2 separate regions of the Homo sapiens genome follow, and region 1 is linked to region 2. The links come from fine-mapping of genetic effects on gene expression. A gene starts in region 2. The other region holds a variant in brackets. All regions are shown on one strand. Distances are from middle to middle. Region 1 has its middle 16 kb from the start of MED18. Region 2 holds the start of SESN2 (sestrin 2).

The links.
Region 1: its variant is fine-mapped to the expression of SESN2 in whole blood (INTERVAL, PIP above 0.99).

The regions. Positions count from the first base shown.
Region 1 is chr1:28,310,924-28,315,306 of GRCh38, forward strand. No RefSeq gene overlaps it. Among named protein-coding and RNA genes, the nearest start is that of MED18, 16 kb to the right of the region's middle. RefSeq lists an enhancer at 2,714-3,214. The variant A/G (reference allele first, on the strand shown) is at 2,459.
Region 2 is chr1:28,257,529-28,261,911 of GRCh38, forward strand. It overlaps SESN2 (sestrin 2), which reads left to right and starts at 1,990. Exons shown (of 10, transcript NM_031459.5): 1 at 1,990-2,409. The coding sequence starts at 2,320. RefSeq lists enhancers at 1,561-1,740, 1,733-2,581 and silencers at 1,851-2,060, 2,841-2,900.

The sequences.
Region 1 (4,383 bases), 53 kb after region 2:
GTTCGAGACCAGCCTGGCTAACATGGTGAAACCCCATCTCTACTAAAAATACAAAATTAGGCTGGGCGTGGTGGCTCACGCCTGTAATCCCAGCACTTTGGGAGGCCAAGGCAGGCGGATCACCTGAGGTCAGGAGTCCAAGACCAGTCTAGCCAACATGGTGAAACCCCGTCTCTACTAAAAATACAAAAATTAGCTGGGTGTGGTGTTGGGAGTCTGTAGTCCCAGCTACTCAGGAGGCTAAGGCAGGAGAATCACTTGAACCTGGGAGGTGGAGGTTGCAGTCAGCTGAGATTGCGCCACTGCGCTCCAGTCTGGGTGACAGAGCGAGACTCCGCCTCAAAAAAAGAAAAAAAAATTAGCTGGGCATGGTGGCACATGCCTATAATCCCAGCTACTCAGCAGGCAAGGCTGAAGAATCGCCTAAACCTGGGAGGCGGAGGTTGCAGTGAGCTGAGATTGCACCATTGTGCTCCAGCCTGGGTGACAAGAGTAAAACTCCATCTCAAAAAAAATTAAAAAAAAAAATAATAATAATAATAATATGGGTACACTGAAGAAGACTTCAAAATTCACCAAGAATGTTTGGAATCTAATTTTTTAACCAACTTACTTTAGGGTCATTTTTAGCGTACGTGGATCTTCCTGGTTCTCAATTTGACACCCTCTCTAAACATGAATGAGTTTAAATCATATTCATTCCTAAGCAATCACACTCAAGAATAAGTACAGATGTGTGGAATATGCCAATACCTTTAACTCCAGATATCGTGTTCTCAAGATAAAAGCCTTTAAAACAAAAAGCCATCTTATGTATCAAGTCAGCATGAAATTGAAATACAAAATTAATATAGCTGAGGTTTTCCCTCATATCCTATGCTTTTAAATTATCTATTCTACAATCCTAGAATCAACATTTTTTTATTAAGAGACAGGGTCGGCCGGGCATGGTGGCTCACGCCTGTAATCCCAGCACTTTGGGAGGCCGAGGCGGGCAGATCACCTGAGGTTGGGAGTTTGAGACCAGCCTGACCAACATGGAGAAATCCCATCTCTACAAAAAATACAAAATTAGCTGGGCGTGGTGGCACATGCCTGTAATCCCAGCTACTTGGAAGGCTGAGGCGGGAGAATCGCTTCAACCTGGGAGGCGGAGGTTGCGGTGAGCCGAGATCCCGCCATTGCACTCCAGCCTGGGCAACAAGAGCCTGAAACTCCATCCCAAAAAAAGAGACAGGGTCTGTCTTTGTTGCCCAGGCTGGAGTACAGTGGTGCCATCAAAGCTCAGCACAGCCTCCAACTCCAGAGCTCGATCCTCCTGCCTCTGCCTCCCCTTCCTGAGCAGCTGCAACTACAGGCACATGCCTCGATACCCAGCCAATTAAAAAAAAAAAACAAACTCATACTGAACAATGAGTTCTGGGATGCAAAACAGGATTTATTTTTTGTACTTATCCATAAATATATATATATAAGTGCGTGCTGGTTGCTTTTTGTTGTTGTTGTTATTAGACCTCAAGACCATTGGGAATGTTTTTTTGTTTTTGTTTTTGTTTTTTTGAGACGGAATCTTGCTCTGTCGCCCAGGTTGGAGTGCAGTGGCAGGATCTCTGCTCACTGCAAGCTCCGCCTCCCGGGTTCATGCCATTCTCCTGCCTCAGCCCCCCAAATAGCTGGGACTACAGGCGCCTGCCACCACGCCCGGCTAATTTTTTGTATTTTTAGTAGAGACAGGGTTTCACCGTGTTAGCCAGGATGGTCTCGATCTCCTGACCTCGTGATCCACCCGCCTCAGCCTCCCAAAGTGCTGGGATTACAGGCATAAGCCACCGCACCCGGCTTATGTTTTTGTATTTTTAGTAGAGACGGGGTTTCACCGTGTTAGCCAGGATGGTCTCGATCTCCTGACCTCATGATCCACCTTCCTCGGCCTCCCAAAGTGCTGGGATTACAGGCATGAGCCATCGCGCCCGGCCTGGAATGGGTGGTTTTTTTACTACCTCTGGGTGAATGAGAAAGTACACTACAATAGCAAGAGAGCAGGAAGGGCAATTTATTATTTCTTTTCTTTTTTCTTTTTTTTTTTTTTTTTTGAGACGGAGTTTCACTCTTGTTGCCCAGGCTGGAGTGCGGTGGTGTGATCTCGGCTCACTGCAACCTCCGCCTCCTGGGTTCAAGCGATTCTCCTGTCAGCCTCCCGAGTAGCTGGGATTACAGGCACTCGCCACTACGCCTGGCTAAGTTTTGGTATTTTTTTAGTAGAGACAGGGTTTCACTATGTTGACCAGGCTGGTCTTGAACTCTTGATGTCAGGTGATCCGCCTGCCTCAGACTCCCAAAATGCTGGGATTATAGGCATGAGCCACCGCACCCAGCCAGGAGGGGCAATTTCCATTTGGAGTGAAGGAAGGGGCAGATTTGGGCGCAGGATTCTAATAATTGTTTATGAAGAGTTTCT[A/G]TGTTTCATGAATTTTACATCTTTTATCTCTAAAAGACAATTTTGGCTGGACACAGTGGCTCTCACCTGTAATCCCAGCACTTTAGAAGGCTGAGGTAGGAGGACCACTTGAGTCCAAAAGTTTGAGACCAGCTTGGGCAACATAGGGAGATCCTATCTCAATTAAAAAATGAGCCAGGCTTGGTGGCACATGCCTGTGGTCCCAGCTACTCAGGGGGTGGACTGAGGTAGGATGATCGCTTGTGCCTGGGAGGTTGAGGCTGTAGTGAGCCAAGATAGCGCCACTGCACTCCAACCTGAGCAACAGAGCAAGAGCCTGTCTCAAAAAAATAAATAAAATAAAAATAAAAAGGTGGGCATTTTATAGAATAAGGAAGTTTAAATCTGAAAGGATTAAGCCACTTGCCCAAAGTCTTATAGCCAGTGAGAAGCCAGAGCCAGGATGTGAACTCAGGTCTGCATGATATGGATGCCAAAAGCCCAGGTCCTGGCCACCGTGCCAAGCTGCCTCTTGAGAAATAGGAGCTCCCCAGCCTCTAAAACATTACCCTCTTCCTGACATTGGCCCTGGAAGGTTGTTAGACCAGAACAACAACCAGGAGATGTTGCATGCAACTTAGGCACCCCACTTCAGTCATCTGTGATGCCTCAAGGACCAGAGTTCACAGTCTGTGCTTGGCACCCCCGTCAGAGCTTTGACAAGCAATGTGTTTGTTAGACATGTTGTCCTTTCCAGGCTCAACCAAACAGCTCCAGCCTGCCCGCGCTGACCAGCAGAGCAGGCCTCCAGGCTGAGTCACCGCCCAGGGGTGTTTCACAACCAACCTGTCTGTGCATTGAGGCAGCAGAGGCAGGAAAGGTCACTGGGTGGCCCATGTCACCTTGAGCTCCTGGACAGAAAGGTGGAGCCTGGCTCACCTGTACCCATCCAGTTCTCACCCGAGTTTTCTTTCTCTTCTTGTAGGCTCTCTCTTTAACCTGAGGTATTATCCTGAGCCAAGGGAAGTTTCAACAAGCTCCAGTTCCTCATCTGTAAGATGGGAACTACATACATATTTAAATTATTGTGCATCCTACATGCCCTGTATCATTTAATCTTTATAGCAAACCAGTGAGGTAGATGCTATTATTTCATTTTACAAATGCAGGTACTGAAGATCAGAGATGTTACGTCACTCACCAAAGTCACACAGCTGGTTAGCGCAGGGTCAGGAATCAACCCTAAGTCTGTATGACTAAAGAGTGTGGGTTCAGAAGGAAATGTTCAGGAGAAAAGTCTGGCTATGGCTCGGGGCCTGTAATTCCCTGCTGAGTAATTTAGGCAAGTCCCTTCCACTCTGTGGGTCACTCTGTGGGTCTTGGTTTCCCCATCCGTTCTGTGGGGTGGGAGATAGGAAGCTGGACTAATGAGGCTGGAGGCCTCTTTCGCCTTTAAGTCTATGGTCCTAAGATTTTACGCAGAAGGCCTTTCCCTCAGTCACGCCTAGAGTGTGGTCTTTGCTTCCCGTACAGCCCACTCTTGAACTTCCTCTGGGGGAAGAGCAGACAGCAGGAGATTTCCTAGCAAGCTGCAGCTCTTTTTTTTTTTTTTTTTTTTTTTTGAGATGGAGTCTGGCTCTGTCGCCCAGGCTGGAGTGCAGTAGCGCCATCTCGGCTCACTGCGAGCTCCACCTCCCAGGTTCACGCCATTTTCCTGCCTCAGCCTCCCGAGCAGCTGGGACTGCAGGCGCCGGCCACCGCGCCCGGCTAATTTTTTTGTATTTTTAGTAGAGTCGGGGTTTCTCCGTGGTCTCGATCTCCTGACCTCGTGATCCGCCCGCCTCGGCCTCCCAAAGTGCTGGGATTAGCAAGCTGCAGCTCTTGCACATGACAACTTTGTTGTGACTTCCACTGAGCCATGTCCACATCTGTGAAATTGGGATGAC
Region 2 (4,383 bases):
GAGCAGGAGATGGATGTCAAGATGTAGACCCTGCCAGCCAGGCGCGGTGGCTCATGCCTATAATGCCAGCACTTTGGGAGGCTGAGGCGGGCAGAGCACAAGGTCAGGAGTTCGAGACCAGCCTGATCAACATGGTGAAACCCTGTCTCCACTAAAAATACAAAAATTAGCCGGGTGTGGTGGCACTTGCCTGTAATCCCAGCTACTCAGGAGGCTGAGGCAGGAGAATTGCTTGAACCTGGGAGGCAGAGGTTGCAGTGAGCCAAGATCGGGCCACTGCACTCCAGCCTGGGAGACAGAGTGCGACTCTGTTTAAAAAAAAAAAAAAAAAAAAAAAAAAGATGTTGACCCTGCCCTCAAGGAGTTTACAATTAAAAAGATCAGATAAGCCAGACTCAGTGGTGCACACCTGTAACCCCAGTGATTGATTTGGGGGGCTGAGGAGGGAATATCGCTTGAGCCCAGGAATTTGAAGCTGCAGCGTGCTATGATCATGCCACTGTACTCCAGTCTGGGTGACAGAGCTAGACCCCATCTCTAAAAAACAATACTAATAAAAAGAAAAAAGGGTCAGATAAAACATGTACATAGAAAATTACAATACAAGGCAGAATGTGGCTGGACATGGTGGCTCATGCCTATAATCCTAGCACTTTGGGAGGCTGAGGTGAGAGAATCGCTTGAGCTCAGGAGTTTGAGACCAGCCTGGGCAACATATTGAGACCCTGTCTCTATTTACTAAAAAACAAAAAACAAAAACAAAAAAACAGAAAACAAAAAAACAAAAAACAAAAAAAACTAGGTAGAATGTGATACATGTGAAAAGAGATCCAGCTCAAGTGCCTTGGGAGCTCAGGGGAGGGTGAGATTAATCTCTTTTTCCCAAGAATCTGGAGGCAGGAAACCAAGTCGGTTTCATCTTTGGAATTGTAAGCTTAGACTTAGAAGTCTCAGAGGGGGACTTGGGGGTCTTATCCACCCTCACCCCTGGCAGGATTCCCTGTCTAGAATAAACAATAACTTTAAAATGGAAACAAAAAAAGGAGCTCTGAAGGAAAACTGTGAAGGAAGAGGCTCCGTTTGAAATGAATAGAAAATGAATTTAGCTTGGAGGTGCTGAGGTGTTGGTAGAGGCAACTTTCTGGCAAGAGGCGAGTTGAAGGCCAGGAAGTGAATGAGATCAGGGAGAGTGTCTGGAGGGAAGAGGGGCAAAAACAAACTGGGGAAGCACCCACGTTTTAGGAAGTGGGTGGTGAAAGAGGAGTCAGAGAAGGCCAGAGGGAGAGGTGAGCAAAGATCCAGCAGAACACCTTGTTACAAAGTTTCGAGGAGGGTGGGAGGGGTGGAAGCCAGGACGGGTAGCAGAAGGAAGAAAACTTCCAGCAATAGGGATTGAGGTTCCACACGAAGTTACCAATGACATTTCAAGGAATGAAGGCTTTTCCTGAGGCTCCACAAATAAGGTGAATTCCCTGTGTCTCGCATCTTTGGAGCTTCCCCGAGGCCAGGGGGAGCAGGGTTGTGCCCTCTGACCTCTAAATATCTGGGGTTCAGTTCTATAATTAGCAGCACCGGATAGGACGCGAGCCAAACCTCTCTTAACCCTAGCCAGTCCCTCCAGGAACTGAAAAGATGAAGAATTCATTTAGGAGATTTCACACTCGGCTGTTTGGCCTAGCCCAGTGAAGTCCCTTTTCATCACGCAACCCTAATGACTCTTAGGGCTGTCACTGCCGTCTGGTGTTGCCAGGGATCTGACTAAACCGTCTTGCAAAAGTTTGCAGCATTCACCCGAGGCGGACTACAACTCCCAGAATTCCGGGCGCTCCCCGGTGCTGATTGGCGGAGCCCGTGACTCCAGGGGGCGGAGTTTCCCCCGCCTCCCCGGGGAAACAGACCTCTGATTGGCTGGACCGCCGGGCTTTTGTGTCCCCGCCCTCCCCCGGGGACCGCAGCGGGCTGAACTGCTGGTGTCAGAGCCCGGCGAGCGCTGGCAGTTCCGCGGCGGGGATGCTGAGGAGCGCTGGGTCCGGGAGCAGCCCTGGCCCCTGCGGACTTCCGAGGCCGTGAAAACCCCTGCGCTGCGGCCCTTCCCAGGCCCCCGAGGCCGTTCGCCGTTCCCGAAGCCCGACTGGGGGAAGAGTCCAGCACCAAAGCGGCCGTTCTCGGATTCCGGAGCGTTCTGGAGCCCCGAGAGACGCCCCGGGGTTCTAGAAGCTCCCCGGCGGCGCCCAGTCCCGGCTTCATTCGGGCGTCCCTCCGAAACCCACTCGGGTGCACGGGTCGTCGGCGAGCCGCGACCGGGTCCTGGCGCGCACCATGATCGTGGCGGACTCCGAGTGCCGCGCAGAGCTCAAGGACTACCTGCGGTTCGCCCCGGGCGGCGTCGGCGACTCGGGCCCCGGAGAGGTAAGCGGCGGCCGCGCGACGCCCCTCTTCCCTGGAACCCCGAACCGCGTCTGAGCCTCAGGCTGTCCGGAGCTGAGTCGGTGTGTCCTGGGCTCGGGGAGGGAAAGCCGAGCGCGTAACCCGGGACCCGGGTTGCATCAACTGGCAGCCGCGGCCCTCGGCACCCCTCCCCCACTCTGTCTCCCCTCTCCCTCCTTCTCCCCCTCCCTCTCCCCCTCCTCCCTCCCTCTCCCCCTCTCCCTCACCGCCCCACCCCAGGGCCGCGGATCCTTCCTCGGCTCCCTCGGACTCCTGGCCAATGAGGGAGAAGCCTTCTGGAGGCTCTCCGAGCTTTGGGCTCCTGAGCGTCTTCAAGTCCAGGCAAATCCCGGCCGGAGCGGCCAGACCACTCCTCCTCCCCGCCCCCTTCCGCGGAGTCCCTTCCTCTTCGCGGGGGCCGGCGGGCAGAGGACCCTTCCTGGGGTGCCTCCCGGCTCCTGTCCCCCAGCGCGGGGCGTAGGCACCTGGGACTGGCCAGTGAAAGTCGACCTCATCCTATGTCCACCGCACTCCTGCTTTGGAGGGAGAGCGCAGGGGCTCTGGGGGCTTGGCGGGCCGCCCGGTACGCGGCGGCGGCAGCCAAAGCTGGGGGGAGAGGGGACAACCCTGGTCGCGGCTTCCGAAGCCAAGCGCGGGTTAGGCTGCGCCCTGCTAAGTAAGTGGTCTGAAGGCCCAGAAGTTTGTTTTCCAGAAATTCCTCCCCCACCCTCCCTTCGCGCCGCTCCCCTCCACCCCCCCGCATTCGCATCCCGGCATAGCCCGCAGGGGCTTTGCAGGGAGACCGGGAATTAGGCTGGACCTAACCAGACTGACAGTTCGCACTCCCCCACCACTACCAGCAGCAGCGATAATGGACATCTTATCATTTATTATGCACCTACTAGATACCAGGCTCTGAGTTTTTTTCGCCTTTAACCTAAGTCCTCAGGACTAAACCAGCAATACAAGCTACGCTATAGCCCCATTTTACAGGAAGAACATTGAGGCCCACGATGGGCTCAGAAAGAGGCTTTCTTCATTAACCCCACTGAATATCTTGTTCTTTGGCCTTATGATTTCGGAGATTGCACGGCACTAGGAGCTTCTAGTTGCTTTAGTTTACAGGCCTAGAGTGTGGTGGAAGTTGTATTCTGGACCTGGGATTTGGTGGAGTGCTATGACCCCAGGAAAATCCCTGCTTTTCTCTTAGTAACGTGGTTTCTGGGGATCCTACCTCCGTCGGTGTATAGTTTGTGCCCTGGTTTTTGTTAGCTTGCTTACCCTTCTCTGCCGTGATTTAGGAGCGCCATGTGGAGGAATGGCTCTTCTCCTGCAGCTTCTCAGCTGTGTGACTTCTTTGGAAAGATGGAAATAATGTTACTATTGAGAACACCTGAACACTAGAGAGCAAGAGTGCTGGGTTCATGTCCCAGCCCTCCTGCTAACTTGCAGTGTGTGGCTTAGCCAGTAATCACTTCTCTGATCTGTGGTTTCTTCCCATGGGGATTTTACAGTATCTCTAAGGGATTGTTGGGAGAATTAACTCAGAATACAAGCAAAAGCTGAAGCACTGTGACTGGAACATAGTAACTGCGTGATACTTGCTTGCTATTATCAGAACGTGGCCATGGCACGCACAGCTTTCTCCAGAGTGTCTCACAAGGGGGTGCCTGAGCCTGTTCCTGAGATCAGACACTGTACACCCCTCTCTGGGTCAGTGCCTGGTCTAGGGAGAAAAGGCTTTGAGGGAGGGATCTTTACACAGAAGCCATGTTTCCTCAGTGGAGAAAACTGCTGCTATCTGGGAGGTTTCTTTTTCTTATCTTTTTTTTTTTTTTTTTTTGAGATGGAGTCTTGCTCTGTTGCCCAGGCTGGAGTGCAGTGGCACGATCTCAGCTCACTGCAACCTCCATCTCCCAGGTTCAAGCAATTCTCCTGCCTCAGCCTCCCTAGTAG